Linked DNA regions of Homo sapiens. The protein of the gene in region 4 interacts with the protein of the main gene of each other region in a pairwise test. Each region holds a gene or a part of one and is shown on either strand. Other genes may lie near its edges.

Region 1 (4,245 bases), on a different chromosome or scaffold from region 4:
ACCGGCTGCCCAGGGGTGAATGGGGTGAGTGGGGTGAGTCCACAGAACAGTGGGGTGCAGCCCCAGGGGTCTCGTAGCACCTGCCCCCATGTCAGGAAGTCCCACAGCCTAGAGGCTCCAGCCTCAGATGCATACATATGTAGGCCCTGCCCTTTCCTCCTGAGCGGCGGGCCACAGAGTCCTGAACAACAGGAAGCCCCTGAGGAGGGCTCCGCCCTGAGGGAGGGCAGGGGAGCCCCCGCCAGCCCCACCCACAGCAGCGGGCCCTGCCACCCCCCACCCTGACACCTCACCCCTTGGATTCCAGAGAGGAAAGTGGGCTTGTGTGTAGTTTACATGCTCATATCTTAAAATCACTGTTGTCAATAGAACAATTCATAATCATGATGATAAAATAAGATTTATAACCAGCTTCAGTCTGGAGATACACACAGAGCAGATCTTCACTCCCAGACAGGGAGCCCGCAGCTGCCCCCGACCCCACAGGTGCAGGACACACACAGACAGTTCAACCATGTCTTAAACACACAGGTGTTTATTTAATTGTTCATTTGATTGAATTTTTAAGTTCACTTTACTACGTGGATGAGATGGGTGCATATTACAGTAGGCTTTCGCTATGAGCGCTGCCACCATGAGGAATATCCCAGCCCTCAGTTCTGCTTCCCTTTCTGAGTCCCACAAAAGCCAGATGTGGACAGCCTTGGGTTCCCATCCCAGCTGGCTGCTCCTTCTGGGGCTGTCTTGGTGGGGAGAGGGAGATGGGGCAGTGGGTCCCTGCTGACCCCTGAGCCCTGCAGGGGTCAGGATCCTCCCGTGGTCCCTGGGTGTGACTCTGGAAGACACTGGCAGTGCCCGGCCAAGGCCTCCCGCAGGATGGAAGTTGAGGGCCCTGGCTCTGGGTCCTAAGAGAACTCAGCCGCCCCCTTCACACTTTACAGCAAGGGGCCAGGCAGCAGCTTTGGGATGGGGCTTCCGTGGAGAAGTGGGGGATGCTGCAGTGGTACAAAGACAGCCTCCCCCACCGCCATCCTCCAGCTGACCGTCCTCCAAGGCCAGCACTGGGCGTCCAAGGGAAAGAAGGAACTCAGCCCAGAGGGTGTGGGCAGGAGAGGCCTGGAGTCAGGCCTCCACCCACAGCCCCCTCTGGGTGCCAAGTGGGAAGGGTGTTGGGGCTGGCTTGGGAACCTTACCCGCTGCCCTTCCAACACCTGGATCTGTGGGCAGCGGTCCCACAAAATCCCCCTTGGGGCTCCCTGAGGAGGACTTGTGGCTGCCGCTTCCACCAGGGCAGAGGGCACAGGAGGGGCCAGCACTCCAAAGGGCTCTAGGGTGGGTCTTTCAAGGACATCTGCAAAGCCCTGGTGGGGAGGGGCCTGGGCCAGAGGCTCTTTGGAACTCTTGCACTTCTGAGTGGGGGACTGTCCATGCTGCCCACAACCTCTAGACCATGCAGCCTGCTCATGGGTCCCTGGCAGAGAATGCCCACTCCCCAGCAGACTCAGGGCAGGCCCCCAACTGCAGGCTTCCAGGAAGGCCCAGGGTGTCCACCTCACGCCAGGTGGTCTCAGAGGACCCCTGTGCAACCACATTAAGGAAAGCTGCAGCCCCCACCCACCCGCCTGCCAGTTCAACAAGCACCGGCTGCACACGCAGGCTCCCAGGCACCATCACCCCCCTCCCCCGTCGCCCCTCCCTCATGGGGAGCCCCTTCCCCCTGGAAAGACAGCAGGTACTGTAGCCTCGCCTGCTGGCCAGGGGCGCCGGCTCAGAGGACCTGCCCTGACCTGCACGTGCTGACCAGACAGCCCAGCGTAAGGACCCGTGATCCCACGCCACCGCCCTGGGTTTACCACGGTCACCGCCACCTCTCTCACAGGGCCCCCGGGGGACCCAGCCGCGCCCGGCCTGGTGTCTGCACCGAGGGACCGCGTCTCACGCCCGGCGGCTCCTGCAGGGGAAGCCGTGGTCAGCGACTCACCACGAGGACAGGGCAGGGCGGCTGAGTGCGGAAGAGAAGCATGAAGCTGGGGGCGGGGGTGGGGGAGGAGGAACAAAAGTTGCATCTAGACAGAGGTGAACGAAACAAAACCAAAACCCGAACGTGTTCTGTCGCAGGATGGGCGCCGCCCGTCCCGGGCCCTTAGCCCGACATCTCTTCTCGCTGCTCCTTGTTCCTGCGCACCTCGGCCGCGTGCAGCTCCTGCAGGACAGGGGGCGGGAGGGCCTGAGGGCGGGGGTGGCTTGGGGCGACTCCGGGAACCCCCAGGCGCGCAGGCCGTGGCGCCCTGGCACCCGCCCGGCCTCATCCGGGCTGGCCTTCGGCAGGACCCTGACTGAGTTGAGGGGGCGGGAGCACCGGGGAGGCGCAGAGCAAGGCCAGGGACCAAGGACGGGTTTCCTGGGAGCTGGCTGGGCCCCGCTTCTAGCTCGTACCGGAGCCGAGCTTCCTTCAGGGCACTTTCAATATAATGAATTTAGCCATCTATTACTGCGGCTAGTTACTGTCCCGCCAGGACCAGACTCTGGACCTGCCTCGTGCGCTGCTGGGGACGCCCAGTAAACACGGGAGGAGCCCCCGACCCCCACCCCAGCTCAGCGCCTCGGAGTCCCCGGCCCCGCTCTGCGCCCCTCCGAGCTCCGCCCTAGCCCCGCCCCCGCCCAGTGCCCCGCCCCCTGCCTGCTGCTAGCCCTGCCCCCGCCCCGGCCCCTGCCCGCTCCGAGCTCCGCCCCGGCCCCGCCCCGGCCCCTGCCCGCTCCGAGCTCCGCCCTGGCCCCGCCCCCGCCCAGTGCCCCGCCCCCTGACTGCTGCTAGCCCTGCCCCCGCCCCGGCCCCTGCCCGCTCCGAGCTTCGCCCCGGCCCCGCCCCGGCCCCTGCCCGCTCCGAGCTCCGCCCCGGCCCCGCCCCCGCACCTTCTCGCGCAGCCGCTCGCGCAGTGCGGCCAGGTGTGCCTCGCGGATCTCCTTGCTGAGCTCCATCTTGTAGTTGAGCTTCTCCTCCGCCTGGCGGCTGAAGTTGTTATTCTCCTCCAGCGCCTTGTGCAGCACCTCGCGCTCGTGCTCGCGCCGCTCCGCCAGCTGCTTCAGCACCTGCGCCTCCTGCGTCTGTGCGGGGCCGGCGGGCGCGCGTGAGCGGCAACCCCGGGCCCTGCCCGGCCGGACTCCTCCCTGCTCTCCGCCTCCCGCCCAGCGCCCGCTCGCCTCACCTGGCGCCTCCACCTGCCCAGGCCTCGGTGGGCGCCGGGACCCCCGGGCGCTGCCCTGGGAACCCTCGCCTGCCATCCGGCCTGTGGTCGGGGCAGGGCCAGGGGGTCGCGATCCGCCGCCCCCGCCCCCGTCCCTGCCTCGCGCGCGGGTCCCGCGGTCCTGGCTGCGCCCAGGGCCCCCGCCATACCCTGCCGCCACTGCACACCCTGCCCTGCGCGTCTGCCCCTCCAAGGACCAGCAGCAAGAAACCCTAAACTTGTGGGCGGTCTCTGAGCTTTGTCTCTTCCTCGGACATCCGCCCACTGAGCAGAGTAGCTGCTTGTTACACACCGGGTTCCCAGCTCCCAATTAGGTGCCCAGGAGCGGAGGGTCCCCAGGGATGCTGGGGGAGGGGCCGGCTGGTGACCCCTGGGAGGAGAGCGGGGCAGCAGGACCCGCACCCACATGCCAGTCCCTACTAGTCAGCCCTGTGAACCCTGGTCTCTGGCCTCACCGGGAAGGGAACGGAGCCGCTTCCCCTGCCCAATGCGTTGGCCTCCAGGGTGGCACCCCCAAAAGGACATTTTTATCTCTGTTTCAGTCTCAGAGGGGCTGGTGGGAGGGGAGGCTGCAGGGAGGGGACCTGGAGCCCACACCCACCTCTCCCAGGGCCCCTCCGCCCTCCAGCAAGCCTCAGGGTCTTCACACATGAGGCCCTTCCTCCAGCTTCCCTGTCTGGGAGAGGGATGCCCCACCCGACGTCCCCAGGGCCCATCTGGGGACCACCCCCTAGCATCCTGCTGGCCCTGACAAGGGTGCCTCCCACCCTCACCAGAGGCTCCTGCTCCTTCCAGGTGGCCGCCTCGGAACCCTTCCTCCTCTCCATCCCTTTCTTTTTTTGTTCTTGTTTGTTTTTTGAAATGGAGTCTCACCCTGTCGCCCGGGCTGAGGAGTGCAGTGGCGCAGTCTCGGCTCACTGCATCCTCCACTTCTTGGGTTCAAGCAATTCCCCTGCCTCAGACTCCCTAGTAGGTGGGATTACAGGTGTGCACCACCACA
Region 2 (7,269 bases), on a different chromosome or scaffold from region 4:
TAGAATTCACATATACAATTTACCACTTAAGATGTAAGTTCACAGTGAGCTATGATTGCACCACTGCACTCCAGCCTAGATGAGACCCCATCTTTTAAAAAAAAAAAATGAGATGTAGGCTGACTCACACCTCTAATCCCAACACTTTGGGAGGCCAATGCAGGCAGATTGCTTGAGCTCCGGAGTTCCAGACCAGCCTGGGCAATATGGTGAAACCCCATCTCTACAAAAAATACAAAAATTAGCCAGGCATGGTGGCACATGCCTGTGGTCCCTGATATCAGGAGGCTGAGGTGGGAGGATCGCTTGAGCCTAGGAGGTCGAGGTTGCAGTGAGGCATGATCATGCCACTGCACTCTAGCCTGGGCGCCAGAGCAAGACTCTGTCTCAAAAAAAAATTTTTTTTAATTTAAATTTCAAAAAAAGATGTAAGTTCAGTGGGTTTTAGTGTATTCACCAGGTTGTGCAACCATCACAACTATCTAATTCCAGAACACTTCCATCACCCCCAAAATAAATCCTGTACCCCACCTACCCTAGCCCTGGGTAGCTACTAATGTTCTTTCTGTCTCTATAGATTTGTCTGTTCTAGACAATTCATGTAGATGGAATTATACACTATGTGGCTTTTTGTTTGCGACGTCTTCCACTGATCATCATGTTTTCAAGGTTCATCCGAGTTGTAGCATGTTATCAGTGCTTCATTCCTTTTCCTGGCTGAAAAACAGTCCATTACTGGTGTATGAATAGACCACATTTTGTTTATCCACTCATCAGCTGACGGGCACTTGGGTTGTTTCCACCTTTTGACTATGTGAATAACGCCACTATGAACATTTGTGTACAGGTTTTTGTGTGAACCAGTCTTCAGTCCTCTTTAGTATATATTTAGGTATGGAATTGCTGGGTCATATGGTAACTTGAAGTTTAACTTTTTGAGGAACTGCTAAATCCACCATCTGATTTTGAACTGAACACCAAAGCCCCAGTGGGAATCACAGAGAATCTTAACTATGTCTGTCTAGGTTCAAGAATGTTAGCTTAAAAGAAGGCCTAAGAGAGCGGAACAAACCCTGATTGTCCAGGAACCCCTCAGTAACTTTACCTTTGCTCCCTGCCACAACACACATACACACAGACACACACACACACAATCTGATTTACACAAAAATTTGCTCAGTCAATCCTGTTTTCTCTGCCAAGAGCATCCACCCTGATCTCAAGGGTATTATTCCACAATAAGCAGCCCATAGGACTACTGAAAAACCAGGAAGTTACATTTATGCCAAAGCTGTTCAGAGGTTGTGCCTCAGAAGACACACAGCAGGAACCGTGTGGGCTCTGATCAAAGCAAGAATGTCATCCCAGAGTTGCTCCAGTATTGCTTCACAAATATTACAAATAAAACACGATGCTTTTTGAGTCGTCATGGCTCACACAAAGGGTAGGTTTCAACATCAGCCTCTGGAGAGCCACATTCCCAGAGTGGCCGTCCCGGATAAGAAGGCCACTACAGCACGACTCACAGCACCATGGAGGTTTCCTCCACCTGCGGGACACAGCAGGATGGAGACGGTTGGGCGGCCTCCCTTCCTGGGACACTCCATGGCCAGCCCCTCAGGGACTACTTGAAGAACAGAACCCCCAAAAGACCAGTTTCTGAAAAGGGACTCAAAGTCTAAGGGAGGCAGCCTCCTTTTATCCCCAGGGGAGGGCAGCTCTGGGGCAGACAGGTTCATCTGGATGTCATATTCACTCCCGCACAGAAAACCTAGGCCAAGCAATTTGTCCATCCTCCTCAGAGCCAGTTTTGTGGTCCCCATGGTCTGCCCACCACCTGTACCTGGACGCTGGCTTCATTTGGCCACCAGACAAAAGTCAGGCTGGCCCTGGAGTCCACCGGCCTGCCCAGCCCATCACTTCTGGGCTAGGTAGTGCTAAGCCTGCCCAGCCCACCCTGGCTGGGGCTCAGTGCCCTCTTCTTGGTGACACACTGTGCTCCTTGGAGAACTCCTCTCTAGGTGCTGGGGTGAGGGCAGGTGTGATCTGAGATCCCGGGGCTCTCTGGCAGGTGCATGCACGCACACTGGAACCTGATACAGGCTTTTGAACACAGGTGCACAGTCCAGAAACCTGCAAGTCCCATCCCAAACTATATCTGACTCTCTGCCCTATGCCTGTCCTCCTACAGGATCATCAGCCCCCAAGAGACCTCACCACTCCCCATCCTCACCTTAAATTCCAGGGTCAAAAAGACTCTCCTTGTAGGGAAAGGTAGGGTGTGTTGATCAGGTGGTGTTGGAAGGAGAGCCCCAATATAGGCCACTAATTCAGTTCCAGGTGGACTGCACGCGTCCCATCAGAGTTAGTTTACTCACCGCTGGTCTTTGTCCCTGCAGCACCCAGGGCTTCGGGAAGGGAGAAGCAGACTTCCTAGTGCTGCACCCCCCAGCTCCCCCGAGCCTATGGGCACTGGGTTGACTCCAGTTTCTTTCCTCTTAGAGACTGAGGTTTCTCCCTTTCCTCTCACACCTGCTTCTGTCCGGACCGGCCGCTTCTACCCAGCGGACCCTCGGACGGTCCTCGCAAGATCCGGGTTACACCCGCCCCGTGTTCCCTCTTCCCCGGTTCGCCCTTCCCGGCCTAAGCCCATCTTCCTTAGGAAAACTTAGCAGGGATTTAGGGGCCAAACCAGGAGGGTGGAGTTTTCTTTGCCCTCGGCCAGGAGCACATCTCCCTGTTGCGTTTTTTGGGGGAGACAGAGAGGGGCGGGCCTGAGTCGAGTATCCCTCTCCTCGCAGCGCCACAACTGCGCGCACCGACCTCCCCACGCCAGACGCGGCGTGAGCCAGGCCTCTAATCCGCTCGCCCCTCTTCCGGGTCCCGGTCCCGCCCGGGGCGCCCGGGGTCTCGAGAGCCCGCCTGGCGGCGCGATCTCACCTGTCGGCCGCGCCCGCGCGCTCTCGCTCCGGCTCCCGCTCCCGCTCCCGCTCCCGCTTGGTCGTCTTCCCGAGTTACTGACCCGAGGCGCTCCCGGGCGGGGCGTGACTCAGCACTCGTGCTGGTCCCCGACCCCGCGGCAACGCCCCGGCCAGGCCCCGGAAACGGTCCTGGCACGCTGGGGCTGGTCTCCGAACGGCCCGCCGGACTAACCTTGACCCTGAGCGAACGGCCTTGAACTTTGAAACAAATGCTCCCATGGCCAGATGTCGCCTCTCCGGCTCCTGCCAGCACCCGCGCCCCAGTCCTGCCGAGCCATTCAGACTTGGTTTAAAGTGTCCTTTCAGCATACTTTAAAGCAAAAAAGAGAGAGAGAGAGAGAGAGAGAGAGAGAGAGAGAGAGAGAGAGAGAGAGAGAGAGAGAAGGAAGGAAGGAAAACAAGCATCCCCCTGTTCCTCTGATTTTCTCGAGGACACCTTTAAAGCCACTGGAACCTTGGAGAGTGGGGTTCCCCTCACACGTTGGGCGCACTGCCAACATCCTTCCTTCAGACATACACATAATAATTCCGCAAACCCTGTTGAGCTCCTACATTTGCCAGGCACTGTGCTAGGCGTTGGAGGGATAACTTGGAGAGAAAACTGACAAGGTTCCTGCTTTCACGGAGGCGACAGTCTGGGAAAAGACAGATATTAAACACACCACCAAAAAATACATGTATAGAGAAAACAAAAACCATGTATCACCAACTGCAGTAAGAAAGATTGGGCATGGCCAGGCACGGTGGCTCATGCCTACAGTCCCAGCACTTAGGGAGGCCAAGGCGGGAGGATCGTTTGAGCCCAGGAGTTGGAGACCAGCCTGGGCAACATAGCGAGACCTACAAAAATTAGCCGGGCTTGTTGGTGCACACCTGTAGTCCCAGCTTCTCGGGAAGCTGAGGTGGGAGGATTGCTTGAGCCCAGGAGTTTGAGGCTACAGTGAACCATGATCATTCCACTGCACTCCAGCCTAGGTGACTGTGAGATTCTGTCTCAAAAAAAAAATAATAATAATAATAATAATAAATGAAATGAAATGAAAAAATAAAAAAGAAAGACTGAGGGCAAAGGAAGGGTGCAAATACTTCTCTCCAAGGATGAGAAAGAGGTAGATTTAGGTAAAGAGGAAGGAAGTGTGGTCTGGATGTGCAAAGACCCACAGGCAGGACAATGACCTGGAAGGCAGTGTATTGCCAGCTCAAATCAGACCAAGCTAACTCAGCGAAAGATAAGCCATCTCCATCTACTTACTGCAAATATTAGCACCTACTTTAAGAGTTGTGGATAAGGGCCAGGCACGGTGGCTCACGTCTGTAATCCGAGCACTTTGGGAGGCCGAGGTGGGTGGATCACCTGAGGTCAGGAGTTCGAGACCAGCCTGGCAAACATGGTAAAACACTGTCTCTACAAAAAATTAGCCTGGCATGGTGGCACATGCCTGTAGTCCCAACTACTCAGGAGGCTGAGGCAGGAGATTCACTTGAACCAGGAAGGCAGAGGTTGCAGTGAGCGGAGGTCATGCCATTGCACTCCAGCCTGGGCAACAAGAGCGAAACTCCATCTCTAAAAAAAGAAAAAAAGAGTTGTGGAAAGGCCTCAATGAGATCATTTTTATAAAGTGTTTTAACATGGTGCCTGGCACACAGTAGCAATGAATACACAGCAGCCATTTATTATAGATATTTTATATTGCAGATTATTTTGCCCAAGGCAACCAGAATGATTTATTTTTGATGAAAAATCCTACTCATCGTCTTAGAAAAACAATAAGCTAATATTTATTGATCACGAACTAAGTGCTTTGAATGACTTCTCAAGTTTTTTTGTTTGTTTTTGTTTTTTTCACAAAGGTCCTGCAAGGTAAGTTTTATTAATCTCCATTTTGCAGATAAGGAAATTTAGGCTCCTAGAGGCTAAAGAATTTAGGCAAGGTCCCTCAGCTAGTAAAGCAAGGGGGTGGGCCTACAATGGAGGTCTGAACCATGACCCCTTTTTGGGGGGTAGGGGGACGAATCTGGCTCTGTCGCTTAGGCTGGAGTGCAGTGGCATGCTCTCGGCTCACTGAAGCCTCCACCTTCCAGGCTCAAGCGATTCTCATGCCTCAGCCTCCCAAGCAGCTGGAATTACAGGCACCTGCCACCACACCCGGCTATAGTAGAAACGGGGTTTCACCATGTTGGCCAGGCTAGTCTCAAACTCCTGGCCTCAAGTGATCTGCCCACCTCGGCCTCCCAAAGTGCTGGGATTACAGGTGTGAGCCACTGAGCCCAGCCTGAACCATGACCTTAAAGCCAGGAAACCCCTCAGCAAGCATCATCCCTAAGGAGCCAGAGGGCACTGCTCAGGCAAAGCAGAATCTCAGTTGTGGGGAATTTACTGGGCATGTACCCAGTAAGATGTGACACAGAGAGGTGAACAGAGAGGCTACAGCCTGCCCACTGCACGGAATCAGCCCTGAGGCTTGGGATGGTCATGGAAGGCTTTGTGTAGAAGGTAGGCGTGCAAGGATGAAGGGGATGCCAGCTGGCAGGATGCAAGGAAAGGACTCCAGAAAGAGCAGGACAAAGATAAAGCTGGAAGAGAGGCGAGAGAGGTGTGAGGTGGCCCAACACTGGGCTCAGGTGTGCCAGGGCTGGTGTGGCCCATCTCTAAGGACCTGTCCCAAACCATGAAAAACTTTTTTTTTTTCCTTAAGACCTGCTACAAAGCAACAAACCATGAAAATCAAGGAATTTTTCTGATTATCACTCAATACTTTCTTGGCAACCAGAAGACACCTCCATCCAGGAGAGGGGACATGGTCTCATGCAACCCCTCCAGGTAGCTCACTGCACACCACTCCTCTGGTCCCACTCAGCAGTGCCCATAGCTTTGGAACTGAAAATCAGGGCTCGCTGCCTAAAAAAGGGGTTTTGTCTCTGAAATTCCAAGTGCCAGAGGTAGCAGGAAAGTGCGGTGGTTAGGATCCTGAAAAAGTGGCAAGTTCATTCCATGGAACTTTGACGGTTAGTGGGGAGAGCAGGCAGATTGTCTAACATGACGGAATCTAAGAGGAGGAAGCGTTGCTGGCTCTCTGCTGTAATGAGCTCAGCCAGGCCTGTGGGTACTTCCTTACAGACAACAGGTGGCTTTTCTGCTGGCTCCCAGGGCTGGAGGAGCTCCAAGGTACTGGGTCATCTCAGGAGCCCAGAGAAACAGAGGCAGTATGCCCACTCGAAGAACAGGCAACTCTTAGATCTGAAGAGCCTGGTAAATGTTCTCCTTTTCCATACGTAGTTCCAACGAAATTTGTAAGCTTCAAAGAAGAGAGGAATATCCTCGTTTCTTCCTCTCTCCCCCAACACATGATTTGGTATAGTGTTCCCAGCTAGGGAGAGGCTATATTAATGAAGGTAAGTTCTGCTGCAATGACCAATAGATTCCAAATGTAATGGCTCAAATACAACAGAAGTGCACTTCTTGCTAGGGCATGAGTTCCAGGCCAGTGGACTGGTTTATGAGGCTGTCTCCCTTCACACAGGCATCCAGGGACCAGGCTAACAGGACATGGCAAGTGAGTGCCACTCATGGTCCCAAATTAGATCTTTGTTTTTCTTTTTTAGAAACAGGGTCTCCCTCTGTCACCCAGGCTGGAGTGCAGTGGCATGATCATAGCTCACTGCAGCCTCGAACTCCCATGCTCAAGCCATCCTCCTGCCTCAGCCTCCCAAGTAGCTGGGACCACAGGTGTGCACCACCATACCTGGCTAATTTGTGTGTGTGTGTGTGTGTGTGTGTGTGTGTGTGTGTGTGTTTGAAGAAACAGGGTCTTGCTATGTTGCCTAGGCTGGTCTCAAACTCCTGGGTTCAAGCCTCCCAAAGTGCTGGGATTACATGCGTGAGATACAGCACCTGGTCTCAAATTAGGGAGCTCATCAGTTCTACCTCCTGTGTTGTCACTTGATCTCACCACCACCAGTCCTGCCTCAGCCATCTTCTCTCTCACCAAGCCACTGTAACTGGTCCCTGGGCCTGTCTTGCACTTTTCCAATTTTCTCTCCACAAGGAAGCTGTGCCACACTTCCTTGTCCCAGCTCCTGCCACTCTCAGCCTGGAACACTCTGTTTCCAGTCCACTTGGTAAACTCTGAACTCTCTTTTCATGGTTCAGAGCCTGAATCACCTTGAAGCCTTACCTAACCCACCCCTTCTGGGCCCCCAGACATACTCTTCCCTGGACAGAGCTTCCCTGCTTATTGCACTAATGGGCTGACACATCAGTCTCCCCAGAGTAGCCTGTGGGTGCCTT
Region 3 (7,534 bases), on a different chromosome or scaffold from region 4:
AACCCCGTCTCTACTAAAAAATACAAAAAAATTAGCCGGGAGTGGTGGCGGGCGCCTGTAGTTCCAGCTGCTAGGGAGGCTGAGGCAGAAGAATGGCGTGAACCTGGGAGGCGGAGCTTGCAATGAGCCGAGATGGTGCCACTGCACTCTAGTCTGGGTGACAGAGCGAGACTCTGTCTCAGAAAAAAAAAAAGAAAGAAAGAAAGACAAAATATAGAGGAATGGTCTGATAAGATTTTTTATTTTTCTATTTTTTTTATTTTTGAGAAGGAGTCTCACTCTGTTGCCAGGCGGGAGTGGAGCGGCGCGATCTCGGCTCACTACATCCTCCGCCTCCCAGGTTCAAGCAATTCTCCTCCCTCAGCCTCCCGAGTAGCTGGGACTACAGGCGCGTGCCACCCACGCCCAGCTAATTTTTTTATTTTTAGTAGAGACGGGGTTTTACCATGTTGGCCGGGATGGTCTCGATCTCTTGACCTCGTGACCTGCCCGCCTCGGCCTCCCAAAGTGCTGGGATTACAGGCATGACCCCCACGCCCGGCCTTTTTGTTTTTATTTTTTTTTGAGACAGAGTTTCACTCTTGTTGCCTAGGCTGTAGTGCAATGGCACAGTCTCAGCTCACTGCAACCTCTGCCTTCCAGGTTCAAGCGATTCTCCTGACTCAGCCTCCCAAGTAGCCGTCACAACACCCAGCTAAATTTTGTATTTTTAGTAGAGATGGGGTTTCACTGTGTTGGCCAGGCTGGTCTCGAACTCTTGACCTCAGGTGATCCAACCACCTCGGCCTCCCAAAGTGCTAGAATTACAGGCCTGAGCCACCGTGCCCGGCCCCTTCTTTCTTTCCTTTCTTTCTTTTTTTCTTGTATTATTTCTTTTTTTAGATAGGTTCTCACTCTGTCAACCAAGTTGAAGTGCAGGGGTCTCATCTCAGCTTACTACAGCCTCCACCTCCCATGCTCAAGTGATCCTCCCACCTCAGCCTCCTGAGTAGTTGGGACTACAGGCACATGCCAATGCCACCATACCTGGCTAATTTTTTTATTTTTTTGTAGACAGGGGGACTCATTGTGTTGCCCAGGCTGGTCTCTAACTCCTAAGCTCAAGCAATTGCCCATCTCGGCCTCCCAAAGTGCTAGGATTATAGGCGTGAGCCACTGCACCCTGCCCCTTTTCAGAAAACTCTGCCAAGTCTCAGGATCACTCTTCCTCTTTAAAACCCTTCCTGGTGGCTGGGAGTGGTGGCTCACGCCTGTAATCCCAACACTTTGGGAGGCAGAAGCAGGTGGATCGCCTGAGGTCAGGAGTTCGAGACCAGGCTGGCCAACATGGTGAAACCCTGTCTCTACTAAAAATACAAAAAATTAGCCAGGCATGGTGGCACACGCCTGTAAGGCTGAGGCAGGAGAATTGCTTGAACCCGGGAGGCGGGGCTTGCAGTAAGCCAAGATGGTGCCATTGCACTCCAGCCTGGGCAACAGAGGAGACTCTGTCTCACAAAAAAAAAAAAAAAAAAAAAAAAAAAATTAGCCGGTTGTTGTGGCGTGTGCCTGTAGTCCCAGCTACTCAGGATGCTGAGGCAGGAGAATTGCGTGAACCCGGGAGGCGGAGATTGCAGTGAACTGAGATTGCCACTACACTCCAGCCTGAGCGACAGTGCAAGACTCCGTCTCAAAAACAAAAACAAAAACAAAACAAAACCGTTTGTGGCAAATGAACCTTTTATCTCAGGTTATCAGGCCATAATCTAGTCCCCGCCCTCGACAATTACATTTTATACCATTCTCTACCTTGCCCACTACATTCCAACTATTACTAGTCTTTCTCGGTTTCTTGAATGCTCTGTTTTCCCATGTGAGACATTTCACATACGCTATTTCCTTTGCCTGAAAAGTTCTCCCTTCACCTGCAGACTACTGGTCCTCATTCCTCAAGTCTTGGCCTTAAATCTCACTTCTGGCCTGTCGCGGTGGCTCACGCCTGTAATTCCAGCACTTAGGGAGGCCGGCGCGGGCGGATCACCTGAGGTCAGGAATTTGAGACCAGCCTGGCCAACATGGCGAAACCCCATCTGTACTAAAAACACAAAAAATATTAGCTGGGCATGGTGGCGCGTGCCTGTAGTCCCAGCTACTCGGGAGGCTGAGGCAGGAGAAGCGCTTGAACCAGGGAGGCAGAGGTTGCAGTGAGCTGAGATAGTGCCACTGCACTCGAGATCGCGCCACTGCGACAGAGTGAGACTGCCTCAAAAAAAAAAAAAAAAAAAAAAAATCCAAAAAATTTAGCCGGGCATGGTGGCGCACGCCTGTAATCCTAGCTACTCGGGAGGCTGAGGCACAACGATTGCTTGAACCCAGGAGGTGGTGGTTGCAGTGTGCCAAGATCGTGCCACTGAACTCCAGCCGGGGTGACAGAGGGAGACTCTGTCTTAAAAATCAATCAAGCAAGCAAGCAATCTCCCTTCTCAGAGAATTCTTCCTTGACCATCTCATATAAGTATTCTCACTGGTAATGTACTCTATCCTCACAACCTGCTAATAACACTTCATAACTGCTATAACTTCTTACTTCATAATGTTTTGTTTATTGTATAACTTTCCCACAGTCAGTAAGTTCCAAGAGGGAAAAGACCACGCCCGTTCCGGTTCTAACTATATACCCAGCGGCCAAAGCCTGACATACATAGCTGGCACTCAGTATTTGTTGAACGAATGAATAAAGAAGCTAACATAACTCAGTGGGCGGAGCAATGGGCCTGTCAGGGGCGTGGCCTCCGTAGAGGCGGAGTCTCCCCGGGGGACTGGGACCGGAAGCTTGGGCGGGGCTTCCCAGAGTGGCGCTCACGCCTTGGGGCGGGATTAGGCGGGCGGCGACTTCGCGGGCGGAATTGGGGCTTATTTTCCCTATCCCCTAGCAGTTTCCTCCCCCAGAGCCCTGGCTCACCCGAAGGCACCTCTCCCCACCACTCGGATCCGCTCGTACTTCTCCATCTCATTTCTTAGAGTTTCACTTCCGTCCCCCACGCGGCGCGTGCGCGGACCCACCCACTCTGGGCCCCGCCCCTTCACGGCGAGCGGCTTGCGGGGCGGAGCCAGCGCCCTAGGTGTGGGTTCCGCCACGCGTCCGTATTTGTGGGCCTGCACCACACACCTCCCGCTGCGACACGCCGTCACTTTTCCCCTCACGACCCTGCCCCACGCAGTGTCCAAGAATAGGGCAAGAAAATAGGGCGCGCCCGCAATGGCGGGCACGGTACCCGCCCCTCCCACACATATACCCAGCCCTTGTAAAGCTTGCTAGACTAAAAGGATGTCGCGTTCCCGAGAGTTAAACCCCACAGGCCGGGAAGGGGTGGGAAGAGAAGATTGACCCCCTTCTTGCCCACGAGTGACGCTATTTCAGGAGAAAGCGGGTTCTCCTTGGCACGCAAACGATAAACACACCCAAAACGACCGAGACCAGCGCTCCTGGGAGAAGGCAGCAGGGTTGGTTTCGTGTTTGCCTGGGGAGGGACGGGGGAAATCCCAAGTCGTGCAAGTTGATTCACCTGAAGAGGACATGACACGGTCTCGGGCCGTCCCGACTAGTGAGCGCCGCGCTCGTCAGCACTCTCAACTCCCCTTTCACACACGCGCTGCAGGAGGGTAATCTGCCCTCAGTGCTCATCTTCCCATGGGGGAAGATGGGGGCGGTAGTGGGTCAGTACCTGAAAGCATCAAGGGGAGAAGGAAAGACCGCGGTTTCGCCGAAATGAGCTCAAGGCAAAAGCCTAGAGGCAGGGGGCTGGTTAGTGTGACCAGCTAGGCTCTTTACCGGAAGTGAGGTTAATTCCAGGTTCTCCCGGGCTCCTGCTCTGCGGGAGCTCTAGAAAAACTCAGTATTCGGCCAGGCGCGGTGGCTCACGCCTGTAATTCCAGCACTTTGGGGAGGCCGAGGCGGGCGGATCACCTGAGGTCAGGAGTTTGAGACCAACCTGGCCAACATGGTAAAACCTCGTCTCTACTAAAAATACAAAAATTAGTTGGGCACGGTGGCGCGCGCTTGTAATCCCAGCTACTCGGGAGGCTGAGGCAGGAGAATCGCTTGAATCTGGGAGGCGGAGGTTGCAGTGAGCCGAGATCGTGCCATTGCACTCCAGCCTGGGCGATAGAGTGAGCCTCCATCTCAAAAAAAAAAAAAGAAAGAAAGAAAACATCAGTATTCAGGAGGAGGATGGTCACTAGCTGAAGGTTAGCGTCCCTGTATCAGAGTGGGCAAGGGGTGTGAGGAAAGGGGCGTTTTATCTTCTGCCCCTGTCCTGGCTCTCGCAAGGGTATCCAAACCCACCCACGTGGAATGACTGCTGGAAGGGCGCTGGCTCAGGCCGGTGTCGGCCGGCGGACAGAGCAGCTCTGTGAGCCAAGGGGAGGGGCGGGAAAGCCGCTCACCCAGGACACCCGTGTTCTCACCTAGAAACCGACTGGGCTTTGGTTGACTTAAGAGTCCCACAGGGGTTAATGTGTAACCTTGGAGCCATAGGGGAGGAAAACACTCAAACGGCTTGGTCCCTGGGTCCTTGCGCCTCAGGTTTTCTCGGCTTCTTCCTCCCGCCCGCAGCACCTTTCCCCTCCCCCGCTTCTTCCCGCCCCTCCTCTATTACTACCCTCTTCTCCCTCCCCGCTCTCATCTCCGCTTAACTTCCCTCGCTGGCTCTCAGCTGCTCCTCCTTTCGCCCAGAGTTTATACCTAAACTCTCCCCGAAAGCAGCTGCCTCGCTCGGAGGCGGGAGGGGGAGCCCGCGCCACAGTGAGGGCAGGCTGACACCTAGTGGCTAGGAGCCGCAACTGCTGCAAGCTACCGGCTTGGAGAGCGCGGGTCACTCCAGCTGTCCCGGCAAATCGGAGGTCTTGCTTGCCCAGCCTCCGGGGAGCCGGGCCGAGGGCCGGGACTGTCTGAGGGAGGACTGTGACAGCCGCCCGGCCCCAGGAGTTTAAGAGCCGGCGGGAAGAGGTGGCGATGGGTTACTCAGCAGTTCCCAAGTGCCCACCTCGCGGGCGCGGGAGGGACAGGTAAACACGGGACTCCGGCCAGAAGACTGCGAGTGGTGCGGTAGGGGCACTGGGTCTGCACGGAGACCACTGTCGGACGCGGGGCTCCGGAGCCCACCCCAGGACCAGGACTTAGGGGGCGTGGGCGTGTCGGGTCCCGTCCAGCTCTGCGCAGAAAGTAGAGGGCGGAGAGAGCTCTCGCGGTACCCGCCCAGGGCGGGGTAGCCGGTGGCCCGGGGAAAAGTGGGGACGCGGGTTAATGAGGCCAGGCGAGCGAGGGCAGCGGGGACTCCGTCGGCAGTCGGGAGGCGCCAGCGAGGGGTGTCTCGGCGACGACGCCCCCAGCACAGCTCCTAGTTACCCGAAGTCCGCGGGAGCCGGCCGGTGGCCGAGAGGCCACGGGGACACCCGGCTCGCGCGGCAGCAGCGCCTGAGGGGCGGGGGCAGGCGGACGGGGCGGGGGCAGGCGGGCGGGGCGGGGGCGCGGGCGGCTGGGGGCGGGGGCAGAGGCCTCGCAGGGAGGGCGAGGAGGAGCCAAGGGGCCTAGAGGGCTTCGCCAACTGTGTGGGGCTGGCGGCCGGCGGGAGAGGCGGCCGGCCTGGACTGGCCCGAGAGGGATCCCGGTTCCCAGAACAGACCTAGGAGGCGGCCTCGAGGGCGGACGGCAGGGAGGGCCAGCATGCCCCGACTGCTGCACCCCGCCCTGCCGCTGCTCCTGGGCGCCACGCTGACCTTCCGGGCGCTCCGGCGCGCGCTCTGTCGCCTGCCCCTACCCGTGCACGTGCGCGCCGACCCCCTGCGCACCTGGCGCTGGCACAACCTGCTCGTCTCCTTCGCTCACTCCATTGTGTCGGGGATCTGGGCACTGCTGTGGTGAGTGAGCGACTGTGGAAATGAGGTGGCCAGGGGATCCTGAGCGGGGAGCCGGGGCCGGCTCTTGTGTTACTACCCCCATCGCTCACTGGCGGGCTGAGGCCACGCAGTCTCACCTGATCCCGTTTGGTATCCTATCCAACCAAAAGCCGCAGTGGCCCCAGGGGAGGGGGATCGCCCCTGGGAAACTGGAGGCTCTTGGGTTTTGCCCAGCCACTCTTAGCTTCCCAGTCAGCCACTAGCGCGAGCCCAGGATCCCCCGGGGCTGCGAAGGGTAACCGAGAAGTTGATGGTCCTTGAGGGTGCCGAAATGCAGAGCCTCCTCTTCCCTCCTTTCCAGTGTATGGCAGACTCCTGACATGTTAGTGGAGATTGAGACGGCGTGGTCACTTTCTGGCTATTTGCTCGTTTGCTTCTCTGCGGGTAGGTCTTGCCCAGGAAGCGGGAGGCAAATTGGGGACAGGGAGAAGGAAGCTGCTTGTTCAGTTCATGATCTCTTGCCCCATCCCTCCACTAGGGTATTTCATCCACGATACGGTGGACATCGTGGCTAGCGGACAGACGCGAGCCTCTTGGGAATACCTTGTCCATCACGTCATGGTAAGAGAGAAGCAGACTATGTGGTATAGGCCTGGTGTCAGTAATCTAGTCTCAGCTCCGTCTTTCTGAATCTGGGAGAAGGCCGTGTTTTCTTACCACCCACCCCCGACCTGTGTGCTACTTCTTATGCTAGGATGCTGGAGGTTGGCAGTCTGTACTTGTTCACTGAGGCCAGCAACCCATGGTTTCACTGCCTCTTTAGACTGAACATCACCCACAGCCAGCTGTGAGCAGCAATCAAAATCTAGTAATGTTGAACTAACAAAACAAAGCATCTTACCCACTATAAACTATTATTCCAGGGGGAAATTTGGGATTTTCCAGCCCTCAATCTGATAGCCACACCCCCCAAACTTCCAGGAAAGCGTCTGCATCTGGGTTCCCTAACTCCTATTCTTTCTTCCCTCTAGGCCATGGGTGCCTTCTTCTCCGGCATCTTTTGGAGCAGCTTTGTCGGTGGGGGTGTCTTAACACTACTGGTGGAAGTCAGCAACATCTTCCTCACCATTCGCATGATGATGAAAATCAGTAATGCCCAGGATCATCTCCTCTACCGGGTTAACAAGTATGTGAACCTGGTCATGTACTTTCTCTTCCGCCTGGCCCCTCAGGCCTACCTCACCCATTTCTTCTTGCGTTATGTGAACCAGAGGACCCTGGGCACCTTCCTGCTGGGTATCCTGCTCATGCTGGACGTGATGATCATAATCTACTTTTCCCGCCTCCTCCGCTCTGACTTCTGCCCTGAGCATGTCCCCAAGAAGCAACACAAAGACAAGTTCTTGACTGAGTGAGGGGCACAGAGCCTGGGACAACAAAAACGGACAAGGCCAGAAACAGCTTCATATGGACACTGGGACTTAGCCCCAAGCCTGGGTGTCCTCTGAGGCCAGCCTCTCCACCTTCTGAGCCTGCGCCCACACTATTGAAAACACTAATGAAAGTACTCCTCTGAAGTCCTTGTCCTTTATTGGGCAAGGGGTGAGGGAAGCAGACAGACCGGTTGGACATAGTAGATGGGTGTGTGAGGACAAAA
Region 4 (7,032 bases):
ATACTGTGCTTTTCCGACGGGCTTAAAGAACGGTGCACCAGGAGATTATATCCTGCACCTGGCTCGGAGGGCCCTACGCCCATGGAGTCTCGCTGATTGCTAGCACAGCAGTCTGAGATCAAACTGCAAGGCGGCAGCGAGGCTGTGGGAGGGGCGCCCACCATTGCCCAGGCTTGCTTAGGTAAACAAAGCAGCCGGGAAGCTCGAACTGGGTGGAGCCCACCACAGCTCAAGGAGGCCTGCCTGCCTCTGTAGGCTCCACCTCTGGGGGCAGGGCACAGACAAACAAAAAGACATCAGTAACCTCTGCAGACTTAAATGTCCCTGTCTGACAGCTTTGAAGAGAGCAGTGGTTCTCCCAGCACGCAGCTGGAGATCTGAGAATGGGCAGACTGCCTCCTCAAGTGGGTCCCTGACCCCTGACCCCCTAGCAGCCTAACTGGGAGGCACCCCCAAGTAGGGGCAGACTGACACCTCACATGGCCGGGTACTCCTCTGAGACAAAACTTCCAGAGGAATGATCGACAGCAGCATTCGCGGTTCACGAAAATCCACTGTTCTGCAGCCACCGCTGCTGATACCCAGGCAAACAGGGTCTGGAGTGGACCTCTAGCAAACTCCAATAGACCTGCAGCTGAGGGTCCTGTCTGTTAGAAGGAAAACTAACAAACAGAAAGGACATCCATACCAAAAACCCATCTGTACATCACCATCGTCAAAGACCAAAAGTAGATAAAACCGCAAAGATGGGGAAAAAACAGAGCAGGAAAACTGGAAACTCTAAAAAGCAGAGCGCCTCTCTTCCTCCAAAGGAACGCAGTTCCTCACCAGCAACAAAACAAAGCTGGATGGAGAATGACTTTGACAAGTTGAGAGAAGAAGGCTTCAGATGATCCAACTACTCCGAGCTACAGGAGGAAATTCAAACCAAAGGCAAAGAAGTTAAAAACTTTGAAAAGAATTTAGATGAATGTATAACTAGAATAACCAATACAGAGAAGTGCTTAAAGGAGCTGATGGAGCTTGCTGTATTCAGGAAACCCATCTCACATGCAGAGACACACATAGGCTCAAAATGAAAGGATGGAGGAAGATCTACCAAGCCAATGGAAAACAAAAAAAGGCAGGGGTTGCAATCCTAGTCTCTGATAAAACAGACTTTAAACCAACAAAGATCAAAAGAGACAAAGAAGGCCATTACATAATGGTAAAGGGATCAATTCAACAAGAAGAGCTAACTATCCTAAATATATATGCACCCAATACAGGAGCACCCAGATTCATAAAGCAAGTCCTGAGTGACCTACAAAGAGACTTAGACTCCCACACAATAATAATGGGAGATTTTAACACCCCACTGCCAACATTAGGCAGATCAACGAGACAGAAAGTTAACAAGGATACCCAGGAATTGAACTCAGCTCTGCACCAAGCGGACCTAATAGACATCTACAGAACTCTCCACCCTAAATCAACAGAATATACATTTTTTTCAGCACCACACCACACCTATTCCAAAATTGACCACATAGTTGGAAGTAAAGCTCTCCTCAGCAAATGTAAAAGAACAGAAATTATAACAAACTGTCTCTCAGACCACAGTGCAATCAAACTAGAACTCAGGATTAAGAAACTCACTCAAAACCGCTCAACTACATGGAAACTGAACAACCTGCTCCTGAATGACTACTGGGTACCTAACAAAATGAAGGCAGAAATAAAGATGTTCTTTGAAACCAATGAGAACAAAGACACAACATACCAGAATCTCTGGGACACATTCAAAGCAGTGTGTAGAGGGAAATTTATAGCACTAAATGCCCACAAGAGAAAGCAGGAAAGATCCGAAATTGACACCCTAACATCACAATTAAAAGAACTAGAAAAGCAAGAGCAAACACATTCAAAAGCTAGCAGAAGGCAAGAAATAACTAAAATCAGAGCAGAACTGAAGGAAAAAGAGACACAATAAACCCTTCAAAAAGTTAATGAATCCAGGAGCTGGTTTTTTGAAAGGATCAACAAAATTGATAGACTGCTAGCAAGACTAATAAAGAAGAAAAGAGAGAAGAATCAAATAGAAGCAATAAAGAATGATAAAGGGGATATCACCACTGATCCCACAGAAATACAAACTACCATCAGAGAATACTACAAACACCTCTATGCAAATAAACTAGAAAATCTAGAAGAAATGGATAAATTCTTCGACACATACACCCTCCCAAGACTAAACCAGGAAGAAGTTGAATCTCTGAATAGACCAATAACAGGCTCCGAAATTGTGGCAATAATCAATAGCTTACCAACCAAAAAGAGTCCAGGACCAGATGGATTCACAGCCGAATTCTACCAGAGGTACAAGGAGGAACTGGTACCATTCCTTCTGAAGCTATTCCAATCAACAGAAAAAGAGGGAATCCTCCCTAACTCATTTTATGAGGCCAGCATTATCCTTATACCAAAGCCGGGCAGAGACACAACCAAAAGAGAGAATTTTAGACCAATATCCTTGATGAACATTGATGCAAAAATCCTCAATAAAATACTGGCAAACTGAATCCAGCAGCACATCAAAAAGCTTATCCACCATGATCAAGTGGGCTTCATCCCTGGGATGCAAGGCTGGTTCAATATACGCAAATCAATAAATGTAATCCAGCATATAAACAGAACCAAAGACAAAAACCACATGATTATCTCAATAGATGCAGAAAAGGCCTTTGACAAAATTCAACAACGCTTCATGCTAAAAACTCTCAATAAATTAGGTATTGATGGGATGTATCTCAAAATAATAAGAGCTATCTATGACAAACCCACAGCCAATATCATACTGAATGGGCAAAAACTGGAAGCATTCCCTTTGAAAACTGGCACAAGACAGGGATGCCCTCTCTCACCACTCCTATTCAACATAGTGTTGAAAGTTCTGGCTAGGGCAATTAGGCAGGAGAAGGAAATAAAGGGTATTCAATTAGGAAAAGAGGAAGTCAAATTGTCCCTGTTTGCAGATGACATGATTGTATATCTAGAAAACCCCATTGTCTCAGCCTAAAATCTCCTTAAGCTGATAAGCAACTTCAGCAAAGTCTCAGGACACAAAATCAATGTACAAAAATCACAAGCATTCTTATACACCAATAACAAACAGAGAGCCAAATCATGAGTGAACTCCCATTCACAATTGCTTCAAAGAGAATAAAATACCTAGGAATCCAACTTACAAGGGACGTGAATGACCTCTTCAAGGAGAACTACAAACCACTGCTCAATGAAATAAAAGAGGACACAAACAAATGGAAGAACATTCCACGCTCATGGATAGGAAGAATCAGTATCGTGAAAATGGCCATACTGCCCAAGGTAATTTATAGATTCAATGCCATCCCCATCAAGCTACCAATGACTTTCTTCACAGAATTGGAAAAAACTACTTTAAAGTTCATATGGAACCAAAAAAGAGCCCGCATCGCCAAGTCAATCCTAAGCCAAAAGAACAAAGCTAGAGGCATCATGCTACCTGACTTCAAACTATACTACAAGGCTACAGTAACCAAAACAGCATGGTACTGGTACCAAAACAGAGATAGAGATCAATGGAACAGAACAGAGCCCTCAGAAATAATGCCGCATATCTACAACTATCTAACCTTTGGAAACCTGAGAAAAACAAGCAATGGGGAAAGGATTCCCTATTTCATAAATGGTGCTGGGAAAACTGGCTAGCCATATGTAGAAAGCTGGAACTGGATCCCTTCCCTACACCTTATACAAAAATTAATTCAAGACTGATTAAAGACTTAAACATTAGACCTAAAACCATAAAAACCCTAGAAGAAAACCTAGGCATTACCATTCAGGACATAGGCATGGGCAAGGACTTCATGTCTAAAACACCAAAAGCAAGGGCAACAAAAGCCAAAATTGACAAATGCGATCTAATTAAACTAAAGAGCTTCTGCACAGCAAAAGAAACTACCATCAGAGTGAACAGGCAATCTACAAAATGGGAGAAAATTTTCGCAACCTACTCATCTGACAAAGGGCTAATATCCAGAATCTACAATGAACTCAAACAAATTTACAAGAAAAAAACAACCCCATCAAAAAGTGGGCAAAGGACATGAACAGACACTTCTCAGAAGACATTTATGCAGCCAAAATCACATGAAAAAATTCTCACCATCACTGGCCATCAGAGAAATGCAAATCAAAACCACAATGAGATACCATCTCACACCAGTTAGAATGGCATCATTGAAAAGTCAGGAAACAACAGGTGCTACAGAGGATGTGGATAAATAGGAACACTTTTACACTGTTGGTGGGACTGTAAACTAGTTCAACCATTGTGGAAGTCAGTGTGGTGATTCCTCAGGGATCTAGAACTAGAAATACCATTTGACCCAGCAATCCCATTACAGGGTATATACCCAAAGGACTATAAATCATGCTGCTATAAAGACACATGCACATGTATGTTTATTGTGGCACTATTCACAATAACAAAGACTTGGAACCAACCCAAATGTCCAACAATGATAGACTGGATTACGAAAATGTGGCACATATACACCATGGAATACTATGCAGCCATAAAAAATGATGAGTTCATGTCCTTTTTAGGGACATGGATGAAATTGGAAATCATCATTCTCAGTAAACTATTGCAAGGACAAAAAACCAAACACTGCATGTTCTCACTCATAGGTGGGAATTGAACACTGAGAACACATGGACACAGGAAGGGGAACATCACACTCTGGGGACTGTTGTGGGGTGGGGGGAGGGGGGAGGGATAGCATTAGGAGATATACCTAATGCTAAATGATGAGTTAATGGGTGCAGCACACCAACATGGCACATGTATACATATGTAACTAACCTGCACATTGTGCACATGTACCCTAAAACTTAAAGTATAATAATAATAAAAAAAATGGTGGAGTAGAGAAGTCCCAAAGTCCATCCCTCCACAAAAACTGGCAAAAATTTTGAAGATCGAGTTTTTTAAAACTTGAAACTAATCAAAAGCTTACAGCAACCAGGGAAATATTTAATAATAATTAAATAAAACCTTGAATCTCTGTAAAATAACTTTTTAACACTTTAACTTACTCAGGTTTTCCTCATTTCCCATCTTGGTGGTGGTTTTAAAGACAGCTGACATTCCAACTACAGGTACATAGTACAAGTGGGAGCAGCATGGACCTTATTCCCAAAGAACTGTGGCTTTGACCTGTCTGGTGCTTCCATGAAGTATTACATAAAAGGCTTGCCATTAGTTTGTTTAACTCAGAACTTTTTCACAGATGAGATGGCTACCCTGGAGGTATAGTTTGGAAACATTTAAAAGCAAATGTTTTTATTGCTGCCACCTGGGGAAAGGCATAATAGTTGGGGCAAACAATAGAGTAACCAAAAAGCTGAGAAAGAAAGGCTGGGGAAAGAGTTATTTTGGGGAATACCCTTTGAAAAGTACCCACATATTCCTGGTAATCTAGAAGGCCAACTGCATGCCCAGGACTGAGTGCATACTAAAAAAAAAAAAAAAACCTGAGAAAGACCCCAAGTTTTCTTCTCGGAGTGACTTTTAGGATCTGTGTAAGCAGGAACTGAGGACTAAGGAAGTTGTAAACTGTGTGTTGAAGGCATGCTCAACATATACGAAGCCCATTTACAAAGACTGGGAGGTTTTTGTTGTTGTTGTTGTTTGATTTGGGTTGATTCTAGGCATTTAAGGAAATCTCTGTTGAACTATTAGATGACTACTAAGTTCATGGGACAGAATTCAGTAGCTACATGTGACGAAGAATACAGACTTTACAAAATTTGTTTAGAAAAGTCACTAACTAAACAAAACAACTACAACAAGAAGTAACAAAAAACCCCAGAGAAGGTGGAAGATTCTGATTTCCAGAGATTTCACATTATACTTGTCAAAGTATCGGATATTCAACAAGTATAAATAAATAAGAACATATGGCCCATGGACAGGAGAAAAGGAAATTAATAGAAACTATTCCTGAGGAAGCTCAGACATTGGACTCACTAGACAAAGATTTTATATCAATTATTTTAAATATTCTCAAATAGCTAAAGGAAACAATTTGCAAATAAGGAAACCATGAGACTGATGTCTCACCAAATAGTGAATACCAGCAAAGATGTAGAAGTTATAAAAAGGAACCAAAGAGAAATTATGGTGTTGAAAAGCATAATAACTGAAATGAGAAATTCGCAAGAAGTGTTCAAATCAGATTTGAGCAGGCAAAAGAAAGAATTCATGAAACTGAAAATAGGTCAATTGAGATTATGCTGAAGATCAGGGAAAAAAAAGAATGAATAAAAATGAGCAGAGCCTCAGAAACCTGTGGGACTGTTATGCATAGTTGGAGTCCCAGAAGAGAGGAGAGAAGGGGACAGAAAGAATGCTTAAGGAAATAATGGTTTAAAACTTTTGAAATTTGACAAAAGGCATAAAGCTATACATCAAAGAAGCTCAACAAACTCTATGTAAGTTAACAGAGAGCCACACCAAGTTATAATTAAACTATTAAAAGCCAAAAATAATCTTAAAAGTAGCAAGAGTGAAGTGACTTATGTACAAGAGAGCCTCAATAAGTTAACAGCTAATTTTTCATCAGAAATCATGGAAGCCAGAGAGCAATGGGATGACATCTTCAAAGTAATTGAATAATCCACAAAGAATTTTGTATCTGGCCAAACTATCTTTCCAATATGAAGAAGAATTTAAGACATTCTCAGACAGACAAAAACTGAGCTTATCTCTAGTAGATCTTACCTACAAAAAATGACAAAGGGACTTCTTCAAGCTGAAATGAAGGGACATTAGACAATAACTTGAACCCAGACAAAGACATAAAAAAAGCACTCATCAAAGAACTACCTATTTTTGGTTTGTAACTCTTCTTTTTTTTCTAAAGTTTTAAAAGATAATAGCATAAACCAATAATTGTATATAAAAAAAGAAATCAATCTTAGTTTAAAACTCAAGTGTGCAAAGAA

Evidence for each region.
Region 1: the proteins of TRIM69 (region 4) and STMN3 interact in binary tests that used the Homo sapiens proteins (3 or more experiments, as listed by UniProt).
Region 2: the proteins of TRIM69 (region 4) and AIFM2 interact in binary tests that used the Homo sapiens proteins (3 or more experiments, as listed by UniProt).
Region 3: the proteins of TRIM69 (region 4) and NEK8 interact in binary tests that used the Homo sapiens proteins (3 or more experiments, as listed by UniProt).

Annotation. Positions count from the first base shown.
Region 1 is NC_000020.11:63,639,195-63,643,439, forward strand, and holds the end of STMN3 (stathmin-3), read right to left. Parts: intron 3,106-4,245; coding exon 2,914-3,105; intron 2,204-2,913; coding exon 2,144-2,203; 3' UTR 518-2,143; downstream 1-517. UniProt on the Homo sapiens protein: Exhibits microtubule-destabilizing activity, which is antagonized by STAT3.
Region 2 is NC_000010.11:70,129,794-70,137,062, forward strand, and holds the start of AIFM2 (ferroptosis suppressor protein 1), read right to left. Parts: upstream 3,033-7,269; 5' UTR 2,941-3,032; intron 1-2,940. UniProt on the Homo sapiens protein: A NAD(P)H-dependent oxidoreductase that acts as a key inhibitor of ferroptosis.
Region 3 is NC_000017.11:28,724,268-28,731,801, reverse strand, and holds the start of NEK8 (serine/threonine-protein kinase Nek8), read right to left. Parts: upstream 3,015-7,534; 5' UTR 2,989-3,014; coding exon 2,942-2,988; intron 1-2,941. Other genes in the region: TLCD1 (TLC domain-containing protein 1 isoform 1 precursor), read left to right, coding at 5,705-5,898, 6,239-6,321, 6,416-6,498, 6,909-7,292. UniProt on the Homo sapiens protein: Required for renal tubular integrity. May regulate local cytoskeletal structure in kidney tubule epithelial cells. May regulate ciliary biogenesis through targeting of proteins to the cilia.
Region 4 is NC_000015.10:44,739,528-44,746,559, forward strand, and holds part of TRIM69 (E3 ubiquitin-protein ligase TRIM69), read left to right. Parts: intron 1-7,032.